Homo sapiens: one gene and its partners. The protein of the gene in region 1 interacts with the protein of each later gene in a pairwise test. Each region holds a gene or a part of one and is shown in the gene's direction. Other genes may lie near its edges.

Region 1 (2,441 bases):
GATCATGAGGTCAGGAGATCAAGACCATCCTGGCTAACACGGTGAAACACCATCTCTACTAAAAATACAAAAAATTAGCTGGGTGTGGTGGTTCGTGCCTGTAGTCCCAGCTACTCGGGAGGCGGAGGTAGGAGAATCGCTTGAACCCGGGAGGTGGAGGTGGTAGTGAGCCGAGATTGTGCCACTGCACTCCAGCCTGAGTGACAGAGTGACGTGTCAAAAAAAAAAAAGAGATGAGGTCTTGGCCGGGAGCGGTTGTTAAGAGATGGGGTCTTGGCCAGGCACGGTGGCTCACGCCTATAATCCTAGAACTTTGGGAGGCTGAGGCAGGTGGATCACCTGAGGTCAGGAGTTCGAGACCAACCTGGCCAAAATGGTGAAACCCTGTCTCTACTAAAAATACAAAAATTACCTGGGCATGGTGGCGGGCACTTGTAATCCCAGCTGCTCGGGAGGCTGAGGCAGAAGAGTTGCTTGAATCCAGGAGGCGGAGGTTGCAGTGAGCCGAGATCACAGCGTTGCACTCCAGCCTGGGCAATAAGAGTGAAACTCTATCTCAAAAAAAAAAAAAAGAGAGAGAGAGAGAGAGAGAGATGGGGTCTTGCTGTGTTGCCCAGCCTGGAGTCCAGTGGCACAATCACAGCTCAGTATAGCCTCCGAATTCCTGGGCTCAAGCCATCCTCCCACCTCAGCCTCCTGAGTAGTTGGAGATACAGGTGCACACCATCTCACCTAATTTTTTTCTTTCTTTTTTCTTTTTCTTTTTTTTTTTGTAGAGATGAGGTCTCACTTTGTTGCCCAGGCTGGTCTCAAACTCCTGGCTTCAAGAAGTCCTCCTGCCTTAGCCTCCCAAAATGCTGGGATTACAGGCGTGAGCCACCTCACCTGGTCCTGGATCTCTTTTCTGTATATGTTCATTTCTTGTTGGTCTCATCTAGTCTCATGGCTTTAAATACTATCTGAATTCAAATTCCCGCCCAAGTGTATACTCCAGCCTGGACCTTGGTTCTGAATTCCAGATTCACTCATCTAGTTGCCTACTGCACAGTTGTTGTTATTGTTGTTGTTGTTTTGCTGTCAGGCGGGCATTTCAAACCTAACATTTCTAAAACTGAGCGCTTGTTCCTTCTGGAGCAACTCCATCCCTTTGGTTGTTTAGGTCAAAAACCTTGGCATCATCCTTAACTAAAGTTATTTCCGTATTATCACCATTTCTGCCTGTTTCCACTGCTACCACTCTGGCCCAAGCAAGTCACCATCATCTGTTGACCGTTATTGCAGAAACTTCCCACCTGGCCTCCTTTCTTCTGCTCTTGGCTCTCAGCACAGCAGGCAGAGTGATTCTGTTGAAGTCATACCATGTTACTTCTCTGCTCAAAACCTTTCAAAGCCTCTGTACCGCTCAGATTCAAAGGCAGAGTCCTTCCAGTAGCCCTGGAGACCATACCTCATGTGGCTCTTGTTCCTTCTTCTGTCTTGACGCCTCTCTTCCCACTGGCCACCTTACTGTTCTCAAACATGCCAGGGAGGCACCTGCCTCTGTGCTTGCTGATCTCTCTGCCTAGAATGTTCTTGCCCCAGATGTCTGCACGGTGCTCCTCCTTCTCCTTCAGGTCTGCACTCAAATGTCACCTCAGTGAGTCCATCCCCACCTGCCCTTCCACAAGGCTGGGATTTTGGTCTGTTTTGTTTTGTTCAGTGCCCTGTCCTCAGTGCCTAGAACAGAGCCCATGCTAGGTGCTTAATAACTATTGACTAATTGACTGGATCAGCAGATAAATGAATGTATGGGCAAGGCTGGGCTCTTCCTTGGCCAGGGCTCTGATGGATAATTTTTTTTTTTTTTTTTGAGATGGGGGTCTCACTCTGTCACCCAAGCAGGAGTGCAGTGGCGCAATCTTAGCTCGCTGCAATGTCTGCCTCCTGGTCTCAAGAGATCCTCGTGTCTCCTGAGTAGCTGGGATTACAGGCTGATTTTTGTATTTTTAGTAGAGACAGAGTTTCACCATGATGCTCAGGCTAGTCTTTTTTTTTTTTTTGAGACAGAGTGGAGTCTCGCTTTGTTGCCCAGGCTGGAGGCAGTGGTGTGCTCTCAGCTCACTGCAACCTCCGCCTCCCGGGTTCAAGCGATTCTCCTCCCTCAGACTCCCAAATAGCTGGGACTACAGGCATGTGCCACCACACCCAGCTAATTTTTTGTGTGTTTTTAGTAGAGACGGAGTTTCACCATGTTAGCCAGGGTGGTCTCAAACTCCTGACCTCAGGTGATCCGCCCGCCTCGGCCTCCCAAAGTGCTGGGATTACAGGCGTGAGCTACTGCGCCTGGTTTTTTGTTTTTTTTTTTAATTTGAGATGGAGTTTCACTCTTGCTGCCCAGGCTGGAGTACAATGGCGCAATCTCGGTTGACTGCAGCCTCTGCCTCCCGAGTTCAAGCGATTCT
Region 2 (4,105 bases), on another chromosome or scaffold:
AACTATAAAACAAAACTTCAGATCTATGACATGTTATGAGTTCCCAGCTTTTATTGTCATTTACTACTATGTATCACTAGGTAAAGCACTTGACTTCTCTGGAGCTCTTTCTTCTACTCTACTTCCTTCTATTTCTCCTGTCCCTTTTCTATGACATTAGTAGGAAACTGGCCATGAAAGAATAAAAATAGTTCAACTTACCTGGTAAATTCTAACAGATATTTCAAAAACTAATTTGATTATAAAATCACAGTATACCACATTATTTGTTATAAAAGGATAGGTGTCTAAAAAATAAAAAATAAAAATGTAAGGAAAACAGAGAAAAACATAATGCTTGTCTCTGTCAGTAAATAAAAGTTATGTGTAAGTAGCCTTTGAGCTGCTGAAAACATATTCTTATGAAAAAATACAAAGTTTCACTTTTCATTCACCAATGATAACCATTTACTCCCTTTTACACACAAAACAAGTATAAATCCAAATAAATTTATATTTGAATATAGCACACTAATTACAGAAAAGCATACTCTTAACTCATTTTAAAGATGTCATGAAGCAAAAATAACTAATTTAGTGTCTATCGATGATTTGCCTACATCCTGTTTACTCACAACTGTAGCTGCTGAGTTCATTTTTGTACTCAATCTGGAATTATAACATTAAGATACTAACTATTGTCTAATTTTCTGTTTTCTAAGGGAGCTGATTCATCTGAAGAGGTGAGTCATTTTCATTCACTGGAAAACTTGTTTTCAGTTTTGTCCTCCCTACATTTGTATTGAATTATTAAACTTTTCTTCATTTTTCACAGAAATTTTTGCGTAGAATTGGAAGATTCGGTGTAAGTGTTCTCTGATAATGCTGTGTAGTCCAAATAAATTGTGTTCTCTGATTACTTATTCTTCTAGAAGAACCAATACTTATTTCTCAAATATGTGTAGTAGTTGCAAAAGTGTGCTTTGTTTTCCTCTATTTATGATACACAGGTAACAGTCACAAATGTATTGTGTCCTAACAACATTTAAGTTGAAACTCATAGTGCCAACCTGAAGAAACCAGTTACTCCCTGAGCCCTCAAGTATCATCTCCTAAGTAATCACTTTGACCTAAAAAATAGTTGAAATTCTAATTCTGTTAATTATAATATATGCCTCATGGAGCATAAAGGCTGATAATTACACATAAAATATGGTAAGTTTGCACCTTCTGATTTTTTTTGACGGTGATAAACTCATTAAATTAAACAGGTCATGATAAATGAGATAGCAAATTTCATTTATTTAACATTTTTCTTAATGTATGTATCTTGATGTCCCAGTATGTTGACATATAATGTCAATGTGATAGGGTTGCAAAAGATCCCCTAACTAATATAGTGAATACATGGATTAAAATAACACCAAATAAAAAGATACTCTAAAAGGGATGATGGTTATTTGTGTTAACAGAAGGAAGAAGTATTAAGGAATGTAGGAATCGTAAGAGACAGTAAGCTCATTAAAAGAGTGACTTGAAGAAACACCACATAAGCTGAATTTAGTAAATGTCTCCTTCCCATAATACTCAAAGGTGGGCAAAATGGTTGCTGGGAGGTAGTATTTTGAAGAAAATTTAAAACCTCTTTGGAGTGATAGCCTATAATCGGTGTTCCTGCATGTGAAATAAAACCACAAAACTGTGAACATGCAGTACAAAGGTAAACACTCAATCATTTTTACCTGCTTTTAAAATGTGTTTATAACCAAAAAGAAAAATCTAATTGAAAGTTTGGAAAAAAATCTTATAAGTAATATGTAAGTTCCTAAAACTTTAACAATCTAAGCTTCTAATAAAAACGCTTGCACTGTCATTATCTCAATTTTCTGCAATTTTCTTTCTCCTTGTGTGTATACAGTATGGGTATGGCCCTTATCAGCCAGTTCCAGAACAACCACTATACCCACAACCATACCAACCACAATACCAACAATATACCTTTTAATATCATCAGTAACTGCAGGACATGATTATTGAGGTAAGATGGGTTTAGTGACATTTTTTTTACTTTCTGTATCAGTGCTGACAGTTAAAAGAAGAAAAACAAAAACAAGACATTAAACCAACAGCAGTTCCAGTATAAGAAAGCAGCCAGCTGTATAGCTCCTTGAAATGTATTAATTTATATAAATGCTTCTGAGATAGTCTCTGTCCTGCTATGGTTAGAAGGCAGTGTTATAGAGTGGGGGACACCAGGGTTTGTATGCTGGCCCTGACAACTACTAGTTTCATGACTTTGAACTACTCCTAATGCTCCTGAACCTCAGTTTTCTCGTCAAAAAATTGTGTATTATGATAACACTTAAATGTGCTTTTTAGAATTGGTGACACTTTTGAAAGACATATCACATAAAATCTCTTGATCAGAAAGGTTTGTAGTTATAACTGCAGGGCTTCCCTGCCACTAAATCTGTACCTAGGTGTTGCTTAAAGTTTTCACTCCCAAAATGCAATCTTTGGAGAAGCTTCCATCTGGGAACCATCTGGGAACTTGTGAGAAATTTGCATTTTGTACCCTAAGTAACTCTACTGAGCAATTACTATAGAAATTATTAACATAATGCTAACAAGAAAATATGGAAATGTTATCAATTTCTTTTTAGAAAGTCAGTTTTACCTATCTCTACACAACATTAAATGTTCTAAATTCTATGAAAAAATAATATTTCAAAACAAAATAGAGCAAACTCTTGGAGATAAGGGAGGATTGTTCTACAAAGTTAAAATAGTCCAAAGGATTTCAATTATTTTTCAGTGCATTTGGGAGATTATATTCCAATTCAATTCTCTATTGCCATTAGTGATACAGGGAAGAGCCTGAACTTGATCCCCTAGGTTTTAGGTAATAGCTGATGACATTTAATCAAGAAAAGATGTATTGAAATATTATTTAGAGGAAATGCATATAAATGAAATGTGTAGGCTATATTTAAGTAGAAGAATAAAATAGTATGATGATTGAAAAATAATTTAAATTGTAGATGCTGAATGATAATTTTTATTTATTCAGGAACCAATTTAATAATTGTTTAATTGTCTACTCTGTGTCAAATATTATTTTGGGCCCTGCATTTTATAAACTATAATTGTATATAATATCTACTCTGTACCAGGCCAGAATATAAATGTGTTTACAGGGGTAAAAATTTTACAGATAATCTGTTATTTTTTTTTTTCTGTGCAGGCTTGATTGGCAAATACGACTTCTACATCCATATTCTCATCTTTCATACCATATCACACTACTACCACTTTTTGAAGAATCATCAAAGAGCAATGCAAATGAAAAACACTATAATTTACTGTATACTCTTTGTTTCAGGATACTTGCCTTTTCAATTGTCACTTGATGATATAATTGCAATTTAAACTGTTAAGCTGTGTTCAGTACTGTTTCTGAATAATAGAAATCACTTCTCTAAAAGCAATAAATTTCAAGCACATTTTTACATGTATGCTCCTTATTTTTCTCTTTTCTATTTATAGGAATAATGATTTCTTTCATCATCTTCTTTCCCAGTTTGACTAGCACAGATTGAAGCCCATAATGTCAGAGGTCCTTATTTATAATTTAGTCTGTCATATTTTATATGTTACAAACATGGTACTCAAACTCACTTATTATTAGAGCTATTTATGCCAAGATTTGATTTGCCCATGGTTTCCTTTGCCACACCACAGTTGCTAAGCCTCCAAAGCACTCACATTTTTTATCTCAGTCCCTGTAGGTCAGAAGATAACCACCATGTCACTCTACAGCAGTATGTAGGCACTCTGCATGTAAACCATCTAATGCCCTCCATTAGTTTTTCAGCAATGACTTTTATTCAAGAAATATTTATTGAATGACCCCAGCTGTCAGGTCCTCTTCTAGATGCTGCAGACAAAGAGAGACAAAAGTCCTGTCTTTGGAGAGTTTACATTGTAGTTGGGAGATGCAGATACAAAGTAAATAAATAGTACATATCTTAGGCAATGATAAGTGTGCTAAAGAAGTATAAGCATGTCTAGGGCACAGAAACAAATTTAAACAGGATAGTCAACAAGAGACTCTCTGACATAGTGA
Region 3 (2,924 bases), on another chromosome or scaffold:
TTTACCCATGTTCTTCCCTGCTGCCCACCCTGAGCCTCTACAACAATCACATAAGACTCTTGGGTTTTGCACAACTGCACTTCTCTATTGCGGATGAAGTTAAAGTGATTCTATCTGTAATGGCTTCTGGAGGACCATGTGGAACAGGCTTCCTTTTCCGAGCTTGGAAAAATTTAGGGCCTAGGTATGGGGGTCTGCTGGGGAGGTGGTGTGGTGCTGTAGAGCAAGATAGAAGATGGGCTGGAGCAAGAATAGAACTCTTTTTTCTTGACCCTTCACTGCCCTTTTCTCTTTCTTCCCACCTTTTACTAGCAGCCTCCTTGCTTGGCTTCTTGTTTTCATCTCTTACCTTTGCTTTTGTCCTTTGCTTCTTTTTCTCCTTACTTTCTCTGTTCTCCTTTTCCTCTTCTTTTTCTTTTTGGGCCCGCTCTTCTCTTTATCTGGATCCTTTTAGAGATTCAGTCAGCCGATACTGATCACTTATGCTATGTTGGTCCTATAGTCAGTCATGCAAGCAGATGTTCGTCCTATAGTCAGAGTCTGGCACAGGGAGTTAGAGGGGGGTGGGTCAAGAGAATGAGAAAAAGAGAGAGGAAAAGAGAGAAAGAGAAAGAGAGAGTGAGAAATCTTTTTTGAATTATGTCCAGAAGCAGAATAGTGCTCATATGAGGTGCCCAGTAGATGTGGGATGAATGGGATGGGAGACAGTCTTTTTCTCATTTAGCATCGTTTCCGCTTTATTGCTCTAAAGAACAAGAAAGTTAGTGAAAGAATAATTTCAGCAGAGAAGGTATCAAACTTAATCAAGGAGAAGAGAAGCTGTGTGGCTGGATACACAGAAGATGCAAGTGGCTGCCCTCAGCCTATTTCCTCTAAATTCAAATGAGAAATAGTGTAGTTAGTCATGCATAGGGAGAAGAGGAATCTGAGAACATAGCTGTAAGGATTCACCGTGTGACTGAATTTTGAGATTTCCTTCCCCTAGAGTTTTTCTCTGCTTCACATTCCTAGACTATTATAGACCCAAGTCAGGGACATACATAAATGGGAGACTGAAGGGAAGAACGGTTTGCTTTACTCTGACCTGGCTTGCATTTTCCTGTTCTTTCTGTCTTTATTCTCTTTATCCTTCCTGTTTTCACAGACAGGCAACCACTTTAGTATCCTCCTAGACGTCCCTGATTCAATATATCCCTTATACCTCTGACTCACTTCCAGCAATAACCTCTTAGGAACAGTGTTGTCTCCCAGGGAATTCTAATAATAGTGGACAGGAGGTATGTCTCCATCTGTGGGCTGGCCTGATGTTTTAGAGGTGGTAATGAAGTGGTGAAAGGTGATGACCCAGCCAAGGCAGATTCCTATGCTTCCTGAGGGCGAATCCCTCTCCGGGGAAAGAGACAAAAGATTATCTAAGGTAAGGGGGAAAAAATGAGAAATAGGATGGGAAGAGGGGAAAGAAGAATAGGTGTCAGAGAAAATCGGCCACGTTAGCAATCTGTCTGGTAGGTAAACCAAGGATTTAGGAATGAAATGTGAAAGATCTCCATTGTATGGAGTGAATTATTAAGAGAATGGAATTAGCCAGGGATTAAAGCCTATATTCTCTAGTATTCAGATGTGGCTCCATCCTCTTCAGCTTCCGTCCAGCTTCTCTCCCTAAGCGTTCCGGCACTGTTTGATGGGCATACTCATCTCCTCCGGGTCTTCACTTTGGGCAAATCTCAGTGGGTCATGTTTTTCTTTTGTTTTGTTTTGTTTTGTTTTTGTTTTTTTTGTTTAATCTGACCACGTAGACTATCGCAGGAAAGCAATTTACAAAATACTCCACAGGCGCCTAGTGGCTCAAGCAGGAAAATATAGCTTCCATGGCTGATAACAGGGTGACAAGGCATTGTGGGGACCTCACCTCCCAGGGGCAGAAAATTAACTCACTGTAGCTCAAATTCTGCCTCATTCACAAGACTTTCACCGAGTCTTCTAATTCCAATGTAGCTTCCTCTCTACACTTCCAGGATCTGTGTTGAGCCCATATGACAGATCCCAGTCCCTTATCTACAGTACCCAAATCTCTGAAGCTCTGAAAATGGAAAGTTTTTTTCAAAGTGGCCCCAAAACTCATTTAGATATGACACCTGACTAGATTGACAATGTGAGGCTATTTATCTTGTTTATTTATGCTATGTGACCATTACATATTTCACTGTGGAAATATCACTGTGTTTTGTTATGAGTAGGTCCTTCTAAGAGTGTGTTAGTCATATATGATATAAACATACACACATTAACATACAATAGTGCTTTTTAAAATCTGAAAATGTTGGCCAAAATGCATTGGCCCCAAAAGTTTCAAGTAAGAAATTGTGGGATCTATATATACTATTTAATTAGCCTTAATTAATTTGAGTATACTGGATATGATCCTAGTTAGGCCACTAGCACCTTTGTGGAAGGATCTGTATTATAAGTTTCTTCTATATTCTTCATTGACACATTTATTAATCAATGACTATCTACCTATGGGCCAAGGGATGTCTCCTCTACTGTTTGGAAGACACTCAAATATTGTCTTCAAAACACTCTGTACAAGTTTTTGGCCAGGTGTGGTGGCTTATGCCTGTAATCCTAACACTTTGGGAGGCTGAGGTGGGAAGAACACTAGAGCCCAGGAGTTCAAGACCAGCCTGGGCAACGTAGGGAGACCTCATCTCTACAAAAAATAGAAAAATTAGCCAGGCGTGGTGGCACATGCCTGTAATCCTAGCTATTTGGGTTAGGCTAAGGTGTGAGGATTGCATGAGCCCCAGAGATTAAGGATGTAGTGAGCTATGATTGCACCACTGCACTCCAGCCTAGGTGACAGAGTGAGACCCTGTCTCAAAAAAAAATTTTTTTTAAGTTGTTCTGAGCTTTGCTGCTTATTA
Region 4 (4,152 bases), on another chromosome or scaffold:
ACTTCAGAGCCCGTTAATAAAGGTTGAAATCATGAGAATGGAGATACCTTCTAGGGCTTAGATATAGTGGGAAAAGGGAAGACAATAAAACACCCAAAAATCAAGGGAAATGGGGGGAAATAGTACCAGTGAAGGGACATTAAAAGGAGCAAGCAGAAAGGTAAGAGGAAAATCAGAATAAGAGAGTATCCCAGAATTCATTCAGTAGCTGATGCTACTGATCCCGCTCCTCTTGAAACTTTCCAGGGATGGAAACTATCAGAATGGTTACTATAGCAGAATGGTTAGTAAGAATACAGAACTCAGGGGACATTAAACAGTGTGTCACAGGACTTCCCCCCACCTCCTGCCCAGTGACACAGCTTGCTGCTGCTATTCCATATCTGAAACTTTGTTTACAGAATGTGATACAAGAAAGTAAACTGCAAAGTTAAGAGAAAGCAGGTCTCAGGCTCTGGAGAGCTGGCATGACTCTCAGAACTCTTGCAGTGAAAAGGTGTGAAATAGTTGAATAACGGGTAGAGGATGCTGTATCCAAGGTGTTCTTTTTAAAACCCAAGACATGGAACCCAGCGATTTTTGGAGTCAGTACGAAAAGAGCTCTGATGGAGATTGGTTGATAGTGACGTTTTAGATTTGATTGTTGGGAAAATGTGCAGAGCCAGAAAGGAAAGTGACTTATAATGGACAAGAGAGAGCTAATTTTAAAGAGGAGAGGTATCTTCATTAGCAATTTGAGGAAAGGATGTGATTATAGGTCCCCATCTCAAGTCTTTTTTGGAAAATAAATATGTATTTTTTTAATTATTGAAGTTTTCTAAGTGGATTGTCTCTGAAGATGAAATGACTAATTTTATTAGTCTAAATTGATAGAAAAGTTTTTGATTCCCATATGATAAATTAATCACTAGTCTTCTTTAGTATTTTTATTCTATACTACCTCATTATTATTTAGAAGGCTCTTATTTAGTGAATTATGGTTTCAGTGGAATTTATACAGGGACGCCGTTCTGGTTTTGTTTTGTTTTGTTTTGTTTTCTTCCTTCCCTTTAAAGAGAAGCCCATTTTCTGCAATGGTTTAAAGTGTGCTAGAAATTCAGGTTAAGATGTAACCCAAACATTCAAATTATATTGCAACTAACTGAAAGAATGTGCTTTTATCTAGAGGTGATCTTAGAAGAAATTAGTAGATGCACTTTGCCCCTGGCCACTGCTTCTCCCTACCGTATTGTAACTTTTAGTCATTCTATCCTATTTTTAGAGTCCCAGGAACCTGCTATTGTCTAACTCTTTAAGTATCCCCACCTCAGAAGTGATACCTCATGCTCTAAAGTTTCGCGATCCCAGCCAGCAAACGAGTGCCTCTTCTTTTTGTCTCATTTCCTCCCCAGAACTCTAGCTCCCCTAATAAAAGAACATTTGCAAATGTGTTCCCATGTCATCTTTCCCGAGCAAGATCCATTTTAACAGGAAATATAAAGAGACAGTCCTTTGATGCAAGTGAATTATTTTAATGGTGGGTATTTTAGATATAAGTCAATCTGTGAGAGCAAGACACATGACTTTTGAGATTTTTACCAGACATACCATACTGTAGTTTCAGTCATTATAGAGGTTCAGATGTAAAATATGAATTCCCCAATGTGTCCCAAGCTGAGAAAAAAAGATTTTAAACTGAGCAAATCAAAGCCCATATTGTTTAAATTTTCAGTAGCAGAGTCCATAAGTTAACATAGCTTAGAAGGCTAAATGTTTATTTCCTGAGATTCTCTTTGTCTTACCTTTTCCTCTATTAAAACGCAGAGTGTATATTTATTTTAAAGAATTTTTTTTTCTTACAGATGAAGAAAAAAACTTTGATCAAACCAGATTCCTGGAAGACAGTCTGCTTAACTGGTGAAAATATACTGGATTATGTTTAATTATGGTTCTATTCTCTTTGAAAACATGAACCATGTGAATAAAACCTTTGGACCCTTTTATTCCATTTGTAATCTTAAGAACACACACAGATAGTTTTATTCTTTCAGAAACAAAATATATATAGGATGCTTAGCTGAGAACATCATCTTCTTTCATTGCTTCAGGTCCTGTTTAGATGACCAAAAATGTTTTCAGATCACCTTGTGTCTTACTCTTGAGTTTCTTAGAATATTTATAATTATAAGGCTGAAGACTAAAGTGTTCTTTCCTTTTAACTATAGCCAGTACCTGTCTTGATCTTAGTTGTGTTTTTTTTTCATTTTGTTACCCACTTGCATTTTGTTTTCACTCAGCAGAAATTCTCCTTCTCTGTTTTCCTTTTATCCCATCCCCAAGAATGTGGAAGGAAGGTGAGAAACATGGCAGGATGGGAAATAGGAGAGTATGACTCTCTATAGCTCATCCAGGAGTAATCAATTAAGAAGATAAATTGGATGACTGTGGAGAAGCTCTGTGATAGGAACACTTCAGTGTGGTTGCTGAGAGGAGACAGTCATTGAGGTAGAAGGTTTGCCAAAGATCCAGAGCTCAGAGCTCCCTTTGTGCTCTTTGGGAATTACCTTGCATTCAGTTTAGAAACATGGATCTAAAAGTTACTGGGAAATAAGCAGATGGAGACACACTCTGTTGTTTACGTATTGGAAGAAGGGAACAAGCCAGTTTTGTTAGAGGTAACTCATTTTCCATGACCAAACAGACTCAACAGATTCAAGTACTCTGCTTACTCTAATTGACTAGACTCTAGGTTTTATTTGACATCATAGCATTACATAAATCACTCTGATAACATAAGTGCACAGTAATATGCCTGATCTCTTCCTTTTTAAAAGCCAACTTGAGTTCAGTACCATCTGAATACACACACATGCACATATACCCACACACGCATACACACATACTCCTGTGGCAAACATAATAATGTATTTATTTAGAATTATAATATGACCATCATGTTAATTATTTTTTACCTAATCAGAGTTGTTATTGACAAATGTCATAAGTGGAAAGTATTAATTCTTATTGTCATCAGTATTTAGCCATTATTTAGTAGCTCAAGAATATCTTTATGTGAATGTCTCTGTAACTTGGAATTGCAATTTCACTGTGTTAAGTAATCAGAACTCTGCTTATAAGATTTATCTGTATCTTGTTTCATAATTTAATAATGAAACTAAATTCAAGTTAATGTAATGTTGATCTCCGTCGAAAAATAACTTGTGAGCATTAAAATATCTGTATGGCATTATAATAGGCACCTGTCATTAATTATGATTTGATTTGAAAGTAGACTTACTAGGTAGTGCTTACATCTGATTTATTGAAAATTTTTTCCAAAAGCATTGTCTTTTATTTATACAGTCCTAACCACTTCACCATTAGGAGGGGTGGGACATTAAAAATTATTTACCCATCAGACATAAAATTGTACAAATTGACTATTCAAAATAGTATGTGTATTCAAAGAACACTTTTAACATCTATCTTATGAAATAATTCTTCCTACAACTAACCAGAACAATCTCAAAAATGTCATACTAACCATTGTTTTAAAAGCTGTCTCAATGATCAATAGCTGTTAAAATATAGCTCCAAGTATTCTAAGTACTCAAATTCCTTGAATGTTCTTATGTACAAATATGCTGATTAATTAAAAGGTCCCTCTTCCCAATTTTCTATAACTTTCCAACTCTCTTATGGTGTCTATATTCTGTTTATTTCTAGATTTTTAAAAAACCAAAATGAACAAGTGATCATAGATCAGAAAACCTTCACATTATATGGCTTGTGTTTTAAAATTGGGAATTTTCTGGCTTCAACACACAGATACATGCACTAGAATACCTTGATCTGCAGGGAGCGCTTTCAGCCACTTTCTGCACAGTTCTCATTGCCCTTCTCTTTTTTGCCTCTATAGCCTACCTCGGCTATCTGGCCTCCATCCTGGGCTCTTAATTATTCTTTGTTTTCCAGTAGTTGCCTTCGCTCCCTCAATACCATCATTGTGTTCCTAAGAGAGGAGAGAAGAAGGCGAAGTGACCCTGGCTTGTTCAGATTAGCCTCCAGCTTGCATTTCTTCTTTACCTGGTTATGATAAATGAAAATGTGTATCTTACAATCTTGAATTACATTATTTTATCTTGACCACAAAGAAAGGGAAGTTGGGAATGT
Region 5 (3,342 bases), on another chromosome or scaffold:
CGTCAGTGGAAACTTGGGTGGTTTTATTTTGTTTTTTTTGTTTTACTATTTGGAGAGTTTCACATATGTAACAATTATTTTGCTGTAAAATTATTCTTGACTTATATGTTAGAATTGAATATAGCAGCCAGGCACAGTGGCTCACGCCTGTAATCTCAACACTTTGGGAGGCCGAGACGGGTGGATCACTTGAGGTCAGGAGTTTGAGACCAGCCTGGCCAACACGGTGAAACCCCATCTCTACTAAAAATACAAAAATCAGCCAGGCATGGTGGTGCCCGCCTGTAATCCCAGCTACTTGGGAGGCTGAGGCAGGAGAATCACCTATGGGAGGCAGAGGTTGCAGTGACCTGAGATCAAGACATCGCACTCCAGCCTGGGCGACAGAGTGAGACTCCATCTCGGGGGGAAAAAATTGAATATAGCAAAACCCACAAAATCTGACGAGTGCAGCCCAGGAACCGGAGTGAGGGACAGAGCTGGGGTTTAGGGACTAGGCTGCCCACACCCCAGCCCTGAGCCCAGCCATGAGCCAGCGACAGCTCATGGGGACTGACTGGGGTTCTGAGAGACAGAGGCTGGCCAGGGAGGGGATGAGCATCAGGAAGTAGCAACCAGCACTGGGGTGGGGTTGGGGGTTAGTGACTCTGGTGCTTTTCCTTCTGGGGTGGAGGTTCCAGAAGGCTCTACAGAGCTCCGAGACAGAACTGGGATTTCAGGAACCCTCGAGGTACACCTCATAGGCAGGCCCTTACCATTATAAAATTGTTTCTGATTACAATATTAAACAAGGATTGGGGGAGGGGGATTGAAGATATAAAATGGCTAAAAAGAGGCTTGCTGATTTTCCAGTATATTTTAGTTTGGGGGACAAGAAAATAGCTGTCCTCACCTTGTCCTGCTGAACCTGGGGGTGGGGGTAGAGCTGGAATGCAGAGGTACAGCCCTGACCCACCCAGCTGAGAAAAGCCCAGGGAGACTCCGGAGGGGCTGGGCCTGAGGAAGGGGCACCTGGGCTTCAGTCTTGGGGTGGAAACACCCCCACCTGCACCCGCACCCACACCCTGGAGGTGCAAGTGGCTTCTGCGGCCGGGCACGGTGGCTCACGCCTGTTACCCCAGCACTTTGGGAGGCTGAGGTGGGTAGATCACCTGAGGTCAGGAGTTCAAGACCAGCCTGGTGAAAGCCCATCTCTACTAAAAGTACAAAAATTAGCCAGGTGTGGTGGCACACGCTTATAATCCCAGCTACTCGGGAGGGAGGAAGTTGCAGTGAGTCGAGATCCCGCCATTGCACTCCAGCCTGGGTGATGAGCAAGACTCTGTCTCAAAGACAAAAAACAACAACAAAAAAAAAAGAGAGAGAGAAAGTGGCTGCTGCCTGTGGAGGGCCTCAGGCCCGCGGCCTGCCCTGATGCCAGCGATCACTGGGAACGGTAGAGTCAGCTGCAGGAGGCCTGCACCCAGGCTCCTGCCAGCAACCCAGCTGTGCTTCCCCAGAGACCGTTCCCAGGCACCGCTGCCCTGAGCCTCCTGCCAAGCATCCTCTCTGCTTTCCTTTCAGAAGAGAATTCCGACTCGGACTCTGACTGAAGGCCTGGCGGGTGCCTTGGCAACCTGAGCCACACAGGCCTCCACCCCTGCGCCTCACAGGGGTCGCTGGCGTTGGAGCGGAGGCCTGGACTTCTGAGTTGCAGAGGGGGCTGCGGACACAGCAGGCCCCCTACAGCCTCAGGTTCTGCCTGAGCCCAGCCTACCAGGCTTGCCCCTCAGCTCAGCACTGTTGACCACGCTGCGTATGAGGGCATCTTGGGTATCCCACTCCTTCTCCCCATTTCTGTCCCACAGGCCTTCAGCCCTTTAACGTCTCTGCCAAAAACCAGCACAAGGAGACAAAGCAGAGCCTTGTCTGTATCTGGGCAGCAGGTGTTCCATGCTGCTAGGTGGCGGGGGTCGGGGGTCTTCTGTTTCACTAACAGGAACAAAGACAGAAACCATGACAGGGCTGCCCCGCCAGGCCCCGGTGGGTTTGTCTGCACTTGGTGCTCCTGCCCACACCAGCCACTTTGGTGACAATGACCCTTCCAAGAATCTTTGGTTCAAGGAGCACCAGTTCCCTCTTCATTCTTGAAGCAGGGAGAAATTGACCTTTGCCTTGTCGCCCAGGAAGTGGGGCTCGGCACCCATAACTAACACCTCCCACCCTTGGAAACCATGTCTTCTGGGGGTGAGATGACCATTCTGGGTCTAAGACTGTTTCAAAGAAGAGCTCATAGACTGACTGGTCCAGAAGACAGAGGGTACAACAGTGGCATCACAGTGACAGTGTCATGGGGAGCTGGGCGGGCCCAGCCAAACCCTCCTTCTTCCTAGAGCCCAGCCAGCAGGCAGGAGTTCCTGGACCCTCAGGACAGTGAACTTCCAGACCTCAGGGCAGGTCTATGGGCCACTGCAGGAGATGAGACCAGCCTTCTGTGTTCACCTAACGATTTATACTGTGTATCTGTCTTTGATGGAATTTTGTAACTTTTTATATTTTTTTATGCAAAAGCAGCTTCTTAACAGATGGCATTTTCTGTGACTCTAGGCCTCACAAAAGAGCCAGAGTTCTGGACCCATGTTTGGAGCATTTGTAGCCTTATTCTCTTGCGTGTGAATCTCTTACCCTGAAAAAAAGCCATAATGAATTAAGCCAGACTGACCACTTGCTTGGAGTGTGTGCTTGAAAAAACCAGAGCAATACTGTTGGGTATTGTATCAGGCTTCAGTACAAACTGGTAACACCAATGTGGATCCTGACAGCTTTCAGTTTTAGCAAAAATACACGTGAAATCTGACTACCATTTAATCCTTTATTTCCCTAACCTTTTTGGCACCAGGGACCAGTTTCGTGGAAGACAGTTTTTCCATGGACTGGGGGTTGGCGGGTGGGTTGGGGTGAGGGTGGGAGGGGATGGTTTCAGGATGAGACTGTTCTATCTCAGATCATCAGGCATTAGATTCTCATAAGGAGCACACAACCTAGATCCGTAGCATGCACAGTTTACAATAGGATTCGCATTCCTATGAGAACCTAATCCCACTGCCAATCTGACAGGAGGCAGAGCTCAGGCGGTAATGCCGTTGCTTGCCACCCACCTCCTGCTGTGCAGCCTGGCTCCTAACAGGTCCCATGGTACCAGTCCACTGCCCAGGGGTTGGGGACCCCTGCTCTAGTTCTCACACTACCCTGTTTTATAAACAAAGAAACTGAGACAGAGGTCGGGTAACTGGCCCAGGGCCCTCTCACTTACACATCAGGATAGTGTCTCACGGCAGCCTCAGGCAGCCGGAACCCTGGGGC
Region 6 (3,500 bases), on another chromosome or scaffold:
CCTGCCTCAGTCTTCCAAGCAGCTGGGACTACAGGTGCCTGCCACCATGCCCAGCTAATTTTTTGCATTTTAGTAGAGACAGGGTTTCACCATGTTGGCCAGGCTGGTCTCGAACTCCTGACCTGGGTGATCCACCCACCTCAGCCTCCCAAAGTGCTGGAATTATAGATGTGAGCCACCACGCCCAGCCTAAATGAAGTTATTTAAGAGAAGAAACCATTGTTCAGCAGTTGAAGAGCCTCCCTTGACCAGGGCATTTCCTTTGCCTGGATTGTTCTGAGATGTACAAAGGGAAGGCCTTTTTCCTATGAATGAAAGATCAGGCTAAGCGGCTTCTGAACTCTTTTCCAAGTAGGAAACTGCCGAATTCTGTGAAACTGTGGCTTTTAACTCTCCATAAAACTCAAACAAATTTGACTTGTTTGTTTCTCAGACACAATTATCGGGTGGTATGGCTAAAAACTTACTAATATGAATTCTCAAGTTGGTAGTTGCAAACTTGGCTGCCCATCCAGTTCCTTCACTTGTTTCAAACCAGTCTGAATAAAACAAAAAACCAGTCTGAATCTGTCACATTGATTGCACACCCACTAACAAGTTCTGACCCACCACTAGAAAAACTCAGACCTAGCCTAAAGTCAGTCCTCAGTTTACAGCTGAGGAAGCTGAGCCCAGCGCAATGACATGGGTCTCCCAGAGTTGTACAGTAAGTGAAGAATTAGAACCCAAATCTCTGATCTCTTATCTCCAAGTCCAGTTCTTTATTCACATATATCAGCCAGACCGAAAATAATAATACAAGGTGGAGAAAAAAGGGAACCACTGCTGAACCGTAATTATGAAATAAGGAATTCAACCCCCCTGCTAGCTACTAAACATATAGATATTTTTTGTGGAAACAGAGCACCTCATGATAACTGCTGCTCAGTGAACCCACCACAGTGTTGGGTACCACTTTCCATGACCTCTGATCCTCACAACTACCACCTCACATAGTTGGGTTTATTAACTTTATTGTATAAAGGAGGGAATGGAGGCTGAGAAAAGTGAAGTAATTCCCATAATTCGGGTCACTCATAGGTTGAGCTGTGCATACATGTCTGACCCCAAAGTTCGTGGCTCTTCCCTGCCTTACACTGCCTCTTTATAATCCTTGTCTTTCCCTGCTTGGTATTATATCTCTTAGAAGTAAGATAAAGCAACAAGAGAAATACTATGCAGAACTAATTCTAACAAGTAGAGTAGTTGGTGATATCATCTATAGACTTGCTTGTTTGTCGTCTTCTCTGTTAGTATTTTAGCTCCCTGAGTGCGTGGCCTTCACCTCACTCACTGTCTAGTACAGCTCCTGGCACATTGTTAGCTTCAGATGAATATTTATGAGTGGACAAGCAAGTGCATTTAGAAATGACAAGGACATTCGCCGAAAGCAACCACATCATACTACAGAGGCGGGTCATATAGTGGCCCAGGGCACAGCCTGTGGAGAAAGACGGCCTCTGTTCAAAATCGTGTCTCTTAAGAGTTATTTGATCATAGGCAAGTTACTTAACTTCTCTTGTGCCTCGGTTTCCTGGGGATAATAATAATGCCAATGTCATAGTGTGGTCCTGTGAGTTAATCAAGGAAAGCGTTTGCACCAGTGCCTCGCTTATAGTAAGTGCTGTATAAAGATGAGTCGTTATTGCTATCTGAGGTTATGATAATAGTAGGGAAATAGTGGACCCATGTCTTAATGGGAGAAAAATATCATGAAATTTAGAGATAAGGTAAGTATGATGCTGTGGCTAGAGACTCAGAAGAGACTACGGTTCATATTCAATTGCAGAGTCTGAAAAGTAGATTTTTAACTATCTCATCATGAAAGATTTATTTCTGACCAAAAAATCTAAATGTAGAGCAGATGATTATGCAGATGGCCCGTGAATATGTCAAAAAGAATATAGTGCTTACTAAGCATCCACATGAATTTATGAAGAATGAAATTTATGAGCAGGTGATTTGGTTAAACTACTAGAAGAATGCCGTAGACTCATTGTGTCTTATTTTCAAGAGCACATTTAGAAAATCTGATTTCTGTAACAGCAGAATGTAGGGTGAAGTATGGGAGCCCTGGAGTCAGAGAGTTCTCCTCTCATCTCCCCCTAGAATTGGGCCTTGGTTTTCTTATCTGTCCAATGTGGATAATGAGTGCAACAAAGCCTCCCAGTGTGGTTCAGAGAACTAACGGAGATCATGCATGTGCACTGCCTCCTAAGCAGAATGTAAATGTGAGTCTCTCATAATCACAAGACCTGGGTAAGCAGAAAAGAAAGTGAAATGAAATGTGATTGATAGTCAAGGAGGTTCCCACCTATTTGCCTGTACCAAGCGTAGGTCTCAAATGCTCAGATGGTAGGTGGAAGTTTGCCTTGCAGTTGTCAAAACAAATCATGAGGGCCCCTTGATGCCACTGGCTAAAGGCTGGGAGAGAAGAAAACCTGAATAAGTCCCCTAAGGTCTGAGCATCTGTTGCCTCCTCTTCTCTCCTTGCAGGGGCGTTTGTGGTATGCTGGACCCCGGGCCTGGTGGTTCTGCTCCTCGACGGCCTGAACTGCAGGCAGTGTGGCGTGCAGCATGTGAAAAGGTGGTTCCTGCTGCTGGCGCTGCTCAACTCCGTCGTGAACCCCATCATCTACTCCTACAAGGACGAGGACATGTATGGCACCATGAAGAAGATGATCTGCTGCTTCTCTCAGGAGAACCCAGAGAGGCGTCCCTCTCGCATCCCCTCCACAGTCCTCAGCAGGAGTGACACAGGCAGCCAGTACATAGAGGATAGTATTAGCCAAGGTGCAGTCTGCAATAAAAGCACTTCCTAAACTCTGGATGCCTCTCGGCCCACCCAGGCCTCCTCTGGGAAAAGAGCTGTTAAGAATGATTACCTGTCTCTAACAAAGCCCATGTACAGTGTTATTTGAGGTCTCCATTAATCACTGCTAGATTTCTTTAAAAAATTTTTTTTCATAGTTTAAAAGCATGGGCAGTAAAGAGAGGACCTGCTGCATTTAGAGAAAGCACAGAAACGGGAGAGGTTCGGCGGGTCCCTGCTTGTCCTATGAACTGCTCAGAGCTCCTGTCAGTCCAGCTGGGCCTTCTGGGTTCTGGCACCATTTCGTAGCCATTCTCTTTGTATTTTAAAAGGACGTTATGAAAGGGCTTAGACCAAAATAAATCATAATGTTACTTGAGCCACCTTATATAGCTGCTTGGAGAGTCTATGTAGTTCTTTCTGCATGCATTAAAAATGTTTAGAAATGCTTCAGCAATGGTGTTTTTTTCCTCAAAGAAACCATGGCCAGTAGCTAGGTGTTCAGTAGGAATCAAAGAAAAATCAGTAAGAGCTCCAGATTAAACCTGATTTTTAACTGAAGGAACATTCTGAGGAAAAATACTTAAAAGTAAAAAAGGTCAATGTGAAAACCCTTTTTGACCTGAAAAAGGCCTTAGTATGGTCCTCC
Region 7 (3,500 bases), on another chromosome or scaffold:
CACATTCTTCTTTGGAAGAAAGAAAGAAATAAGAGCAAGCTATCAGAGTAATTAAAAAACACATTATAGATGGAGAATAACTGTGAGAGGCATTGTATTAGTGATCTACAGCTGCATAACAAATTACCACTAATTTAGCAGCCTGAAACACCTATTTATTATCTCACAGTTGATGTGGGTCAGGAGTCCAGGCACAGCTTAGCTGAGTCCTCTGCTTTGGGTCTCATAAGGATGCAATCAAGGTGTCAACAAGGGCTGTGTTCTCATCTGGCTCATCTGGAGGCTTGACTGGGGAAGGGTCCATTTCTCCACTCCTGTGGTTGATAGCAATATCTGGTTCTTTATAGCTGTAGGATTCATGCTAGAATGATTCTGCAGCACTTGCAAGAAGAGAGATTGAGAGAGAGAGAAGAAAGAGAGAGCAAATGCCCTAGCAAACAGAGTTTTATGTAATGTAACATAATCAAGAGCATAACATCCCATCACCTTTGCCATAGCTATTGGTGAGAAGAAAGTCACAGATCTCCACACTCAAGGTGAGGGGATTAGACAAAGGCATGAACACCAGGAAGCAGGGCTCCTGAGTCTCCTGAGTGCCCCCTTAGGGTCTATCTGCCACAAGCATGAAGGATGAGAATGACCCAACCACACCGATATCTGGAGAACAGCCCTCCAGGGAGAGAGAGCAGCAAAAGCAAAGTCTCAGAAGTGTGAGTGTTCCTGGAATGATTGAGACACAGAAAGGAGGACATAAGGCAGGGCCTAGAGCATCTAGGATCTTGTGGGTGTTTGAACTGGTCCTAGAGTCTGCTTTGAAAGAACAGGAACCCACTGATGAAGTTGAGCTGGAGGATGGCATGATTTTATTTATATGCTGGAAGGGTCACTGGCTGCTTTTTTTTTTTTTTTTTTTTTTGAGACAGGGTCCCACTCGGTTGCCCAGGCTGGAGTGCAGTGGTGCAATCACAGCTCACTGCAGCCTTGACCTCCCAGGCCCAGGTAATCCTCCCACCTCAGCCTCCCAAGCATCTGAGATTACAGGCACAGGCCATCATGCCCGGCCTCTGGCTGCTTTTGGAAAATAAGGGACTAGATGTAGTAAGAGTTGGTGCGTTTCAGGCAATACGACTTTTTAAATTTAAAAATATCAAATTGACAAATGAAGATTGTATATATTCAAGGTATACAATCTGATGATTTGATCCACCTGTACATTGTGTAATGATTATCACAGTCAAATTAATTAGCACATCCATTGCCACCATGCTGAGCACCTGAACTTCTTCATCTTAGAACTGGAAACTTATACCCTTTCATCAACATCTCCGCATATATCATGCTAAACAAAATAAGCCAGACTCAGAAAGACAAATTCTGCAGGATCTCACTCATATGTGTAGTCTAAAAAAGCCAAACTCACAGAAGCAACTGGTGGTTGCCAGGGACTGGTGAGTAGGTGATATTTCATTTCATTTTTATTTTTATTTTTATTTTTTTTTTGAGACGGAGTCTGGCTCTGTCCCTCAGGCTGGAGTGCAGTGGCGCGATCTCGGCTCACTGCAAGCTCCGCCTCCCGGGTTCACGCCATTCTCCTGCCTCAGCCTCCCGAGTAGCTGGGACTACAGGGGCCCGCCACCACGCTCGGCTAACTTTTTGTATTTTTAGTAGAGACGGGGTTTCACCATGTTAGCCAGGATGGTCTCGATCTCCTGACCTTGTGATCTGCCCGCCTCGGCCTCCCAAAGTGCTGGGATTACAGGCGTGAGCCACTGCGCCCGGCCAAGTAGGTGATATTTTAACTTAGACTAAATGGTGCCACTGTGGAGATAGAAATATAGGCCAGGTGCAGTGGCTCATGCCTGGAATCCCAGTATTCTGAGTGGCCAAGGCAGGTTGATCACTTGAGGCCAGGAGTTTGAGACCAGCCTGGCCAACATGGTGAAACCCTGTCTCTACTAAAAATACAAAAATTAGCAGGGTGTGGTGGCGGGCGCCTGTAGTCCCAGCTACTTGGAAGGCTGAGGCAGGAGAATCTCTTGAACCCGGGAGGCGGAGGTTGCAGTGAGCTGAGATCATGCCACTGCACTCCAGCTTGGGTAACAGTGCAAGACTCAAAAAAAATAAAAGAAAGAAAGAATTTGGGTGAATGGTGTTCTTTGTCAAGATAGAGAAGACTGGCAAGGAATCAAACTGGAGGGGGCGTTAGCAGGGTCATTCATAAATATTTTTGTTATTAAAAATACTATCAAACTCCAGGACTATTAAGAAGAGTAATCTGAGGCTCTGTCCATGCTCTGAGGACCCAGGGAGCATCTAGGGAATGGAGAAGCCATTCTCTTTTCTGCTTCCCAAAGAAGAACAGGATGTCTATAAGTAGGACGTGAGGACTCCTGTCCCCAAGGTTCCTGTATGATTAGTGTAATTCCTTTTCTTCCCTCCTATTTTCTAGATAAACACGATGAACTTGAAGCTCCCTCAATGAAAACAGGTAAGATAATTAGAAAGGAGATGTTTTTCCCAATGAGATCTGCTTCATGATCACCTTTGCTTAAAGTGCACAAGGAGAACTTTATTTATTTGTTTGTTTGTTTGTTTGTTTGTTTTTTGAGATAGAGTCTCGCTTTGTCACCAAGGCTGGAGTACAGTGGCGCAATCTCAGCTCACTGCAACCTTCGCCTCCCGGATTCAAGCAATTTTCCTGCCTCAGCCTCCCGAATAGCTGGGACTACAGGCACGCACCACCACACCCAGCTAATTTTTGTATTTTTAGTAGAGACGGGGTTTCACCATGTTGGCCAGGCTGGTCTCGAACTCCTGACCTTGTGATCTGCCCGCCTCAGCCTCCCAAAGTGCTGGGATTACAGGCGTGAGCCACCGCACACGGCCTATTTATTTTTTTGAGAAAGAGTCTTGTTCTGTCCCCCAGGGTGGCGTGAAGTGGCACAATCTCAGCTCACTGCAACCTCCACTTCCTGGGTTCTGGGTTCAAGCAATTCTCCTGCCTCGGCCTCCCGAATAGCTGGGATTACAGGCACCCACCACCATATCCAGCTCAGTTTTGTTTTTTGTTTTTTGTTTTTAGTAGAGATGGGGTTTCACCATGTTGGCCAGGCTGGTATCAAACTCCTGACCTCAAGCAATTCCCCCGCCTCGGCCTCTCAAAGTGTTGGGATTACAGGCATGAGCCACCGCACCCGGCCTAGAAGAACTTTAAAGCCCATTTTCTCAATGTTATTGGGGAAACTGCTGTGTTTTGGGGGGTGGAGGATGAGGGGAGATAACCTCTAAAGTGCTTCCGGGTTCTGAAGAAGCTGGTGTGTAAAACAGCACAGAGTGCGTTGTTTGCCATATGACATGATGAAAAACTAGGGTGGGATTTGGGGAATAATGGGGGTGAATTTTTCAGTGACCCATTTGGGGAGTAGGACCAGGACCTACGCAGAGTAGGTACTTCAGGAATATATATAATCAAGAGTTTGTTATAACTCTAAAATTCTCAA

The links.
Region 2: the proteins of MRM1 (region 1) and STATH interact in binary tests that used the Homo sapiens proteins (3 or more experiments, as listed by UniProt).
Region 3: the proteins of MRM1 (region 1) and RNASE10 interact in binary tests that used the Homo sapiens proteins (3 or more experiments, as listed by UniProt).
Region 4: the proteins of MRM1 (region 1) and SPX interact in binary tests that used the Homo sapiens proteins (3 or more experiments, as listed by UniProt).
Region 5: the proteins of MRM1 (region 1) and CMTM3 interact in binary tests that used the Homo sapiens proteins (3 or more experiments, as listed by UniProt).
Region 6: the proteins of MRM1 (region 1) and LPAR3 interact in binary tests that used the Homo sapiens proteins (3 or more experiments, as listed by UniProt).
Region 7: the proteins of MRM1 (region 1) and VSTM1 interact in binary tests that used the Homo sapiens proteins (3 or more experiments, as listed by UniProt).

Annotation. Positions count from the first base shown.
Region 1 is NC_000017.11:36,604,583-36,607,023, forward strand, and holds part of MRM1 (rRNA methyltransferase 1, mitochondrial precursor), read left to right. Parts: intron 1-2,441. UniProt on the Homo sapiens protein: S-adenosyl-L-methionine-dependent 2'-O-ribose methyltransferase that catalyzes the formation of 2'-O-methylguanosine at position 1145 (Gm1145) in the 16S mitochondrial large subunit ribosomal RNA (mtLSU rRNA), a universally conserved modification in the peptidyl transferase domain of the mtLSU rRNA.
Region 2 is NC_000004.12:69,998,966-70,003,070, forward strand, and holds the end of STATH (statherin isoform a precursor), read left to right. Parts: intron 1-701; coding exon 702-722; intron 723-814; coding exon 815-844; intron 845-1,897; coding exon 1,898-1,984; 3' UTR 1,985-2,017; intron 2,018-3,223; 3' UTR 3,224-3,605; downstream 3,606-4,105. UniProt on the Homo sapiens protein: Salivary protein that stabilizes saliva supersaturated with calcium salts by inhibiting the precipitation of calcium phosphate salts. It also modulates hydroxyapatite crystal formation on the tooth surface.
Region 3 is NC_000014.9:20,511,461-20,514,384, forward strand, and holds the end of RNASE10 (inactive ribonuclease-like protein 10 precursor), read left to right. Parts: 3' UTR 1-2,424; downstream 2,425-2,924. UniProt on the Homo sapiens protein: Secreted proximal epididymal protein required for post-testicular sperm maturation and male fertility. May be involved in sperm adhesion to the egg zona pellucida. Does not have ribonuclease activity.
Region 4 is NC_000012.12:21,529,296-21,533,447, forward strand, and holds the end of SPX (spexin precursor), read left to right. Parts: intron 1-1,841; coding exon 1,842-1,900; 3' UTR 1,901-3,652; downstream 3,653-4,152. UniProt on the Homo sapiens protein: Plays a role as a central modulator of cardiovascular and renal function and nociception. Also plays a role in energy metabolism and storage. Inhibits adrenocortical cell proliferation with minor stimulation on corticosteroid release.
Region 5 is NC_000016.10:66,611,046-66,614,387, forward strand, and holds the end of CMTM3 (CKLF-like MARVEL transmembrane domain-containing protein 3), read left to right. Parts: intron 1-1,563; coding exon 1,564-1,592; 3' UTR 1,593-2,842; downstream 2,843-3,342.
Region 6 is NC_000001.11:84,813,207-84,816,706, reverse strand, and holds part of LPAR3 (lysophosphatidic acid receptor 3), read left to right. Parts: intron 1-2,535; coding exon 2,536-2,861; 3' UTR 2,862-3,500. UniProt on the Homo sapiens protein: Receptor for lysophosphatidic acid (LPA), a mediator of diverse cellular activities. May play a role in the development of ovarian cancer. Seems to be coupled to the G(i)/G(o) and G(q) families of heteromeric G proteins.
Region 7 is NC_000019.10:54,050,398-54,053,897, reverse strand, and holds part of VSTM1 (V-set and transmembrane domain-containing protein 1 isoform 1 precursor), read left to right. Parts: intron 1-923; coding exon of another isoform or gene 924-999; intron 1,000-2,449; coding exon 2,450-2,488; intron 2,489-3,500.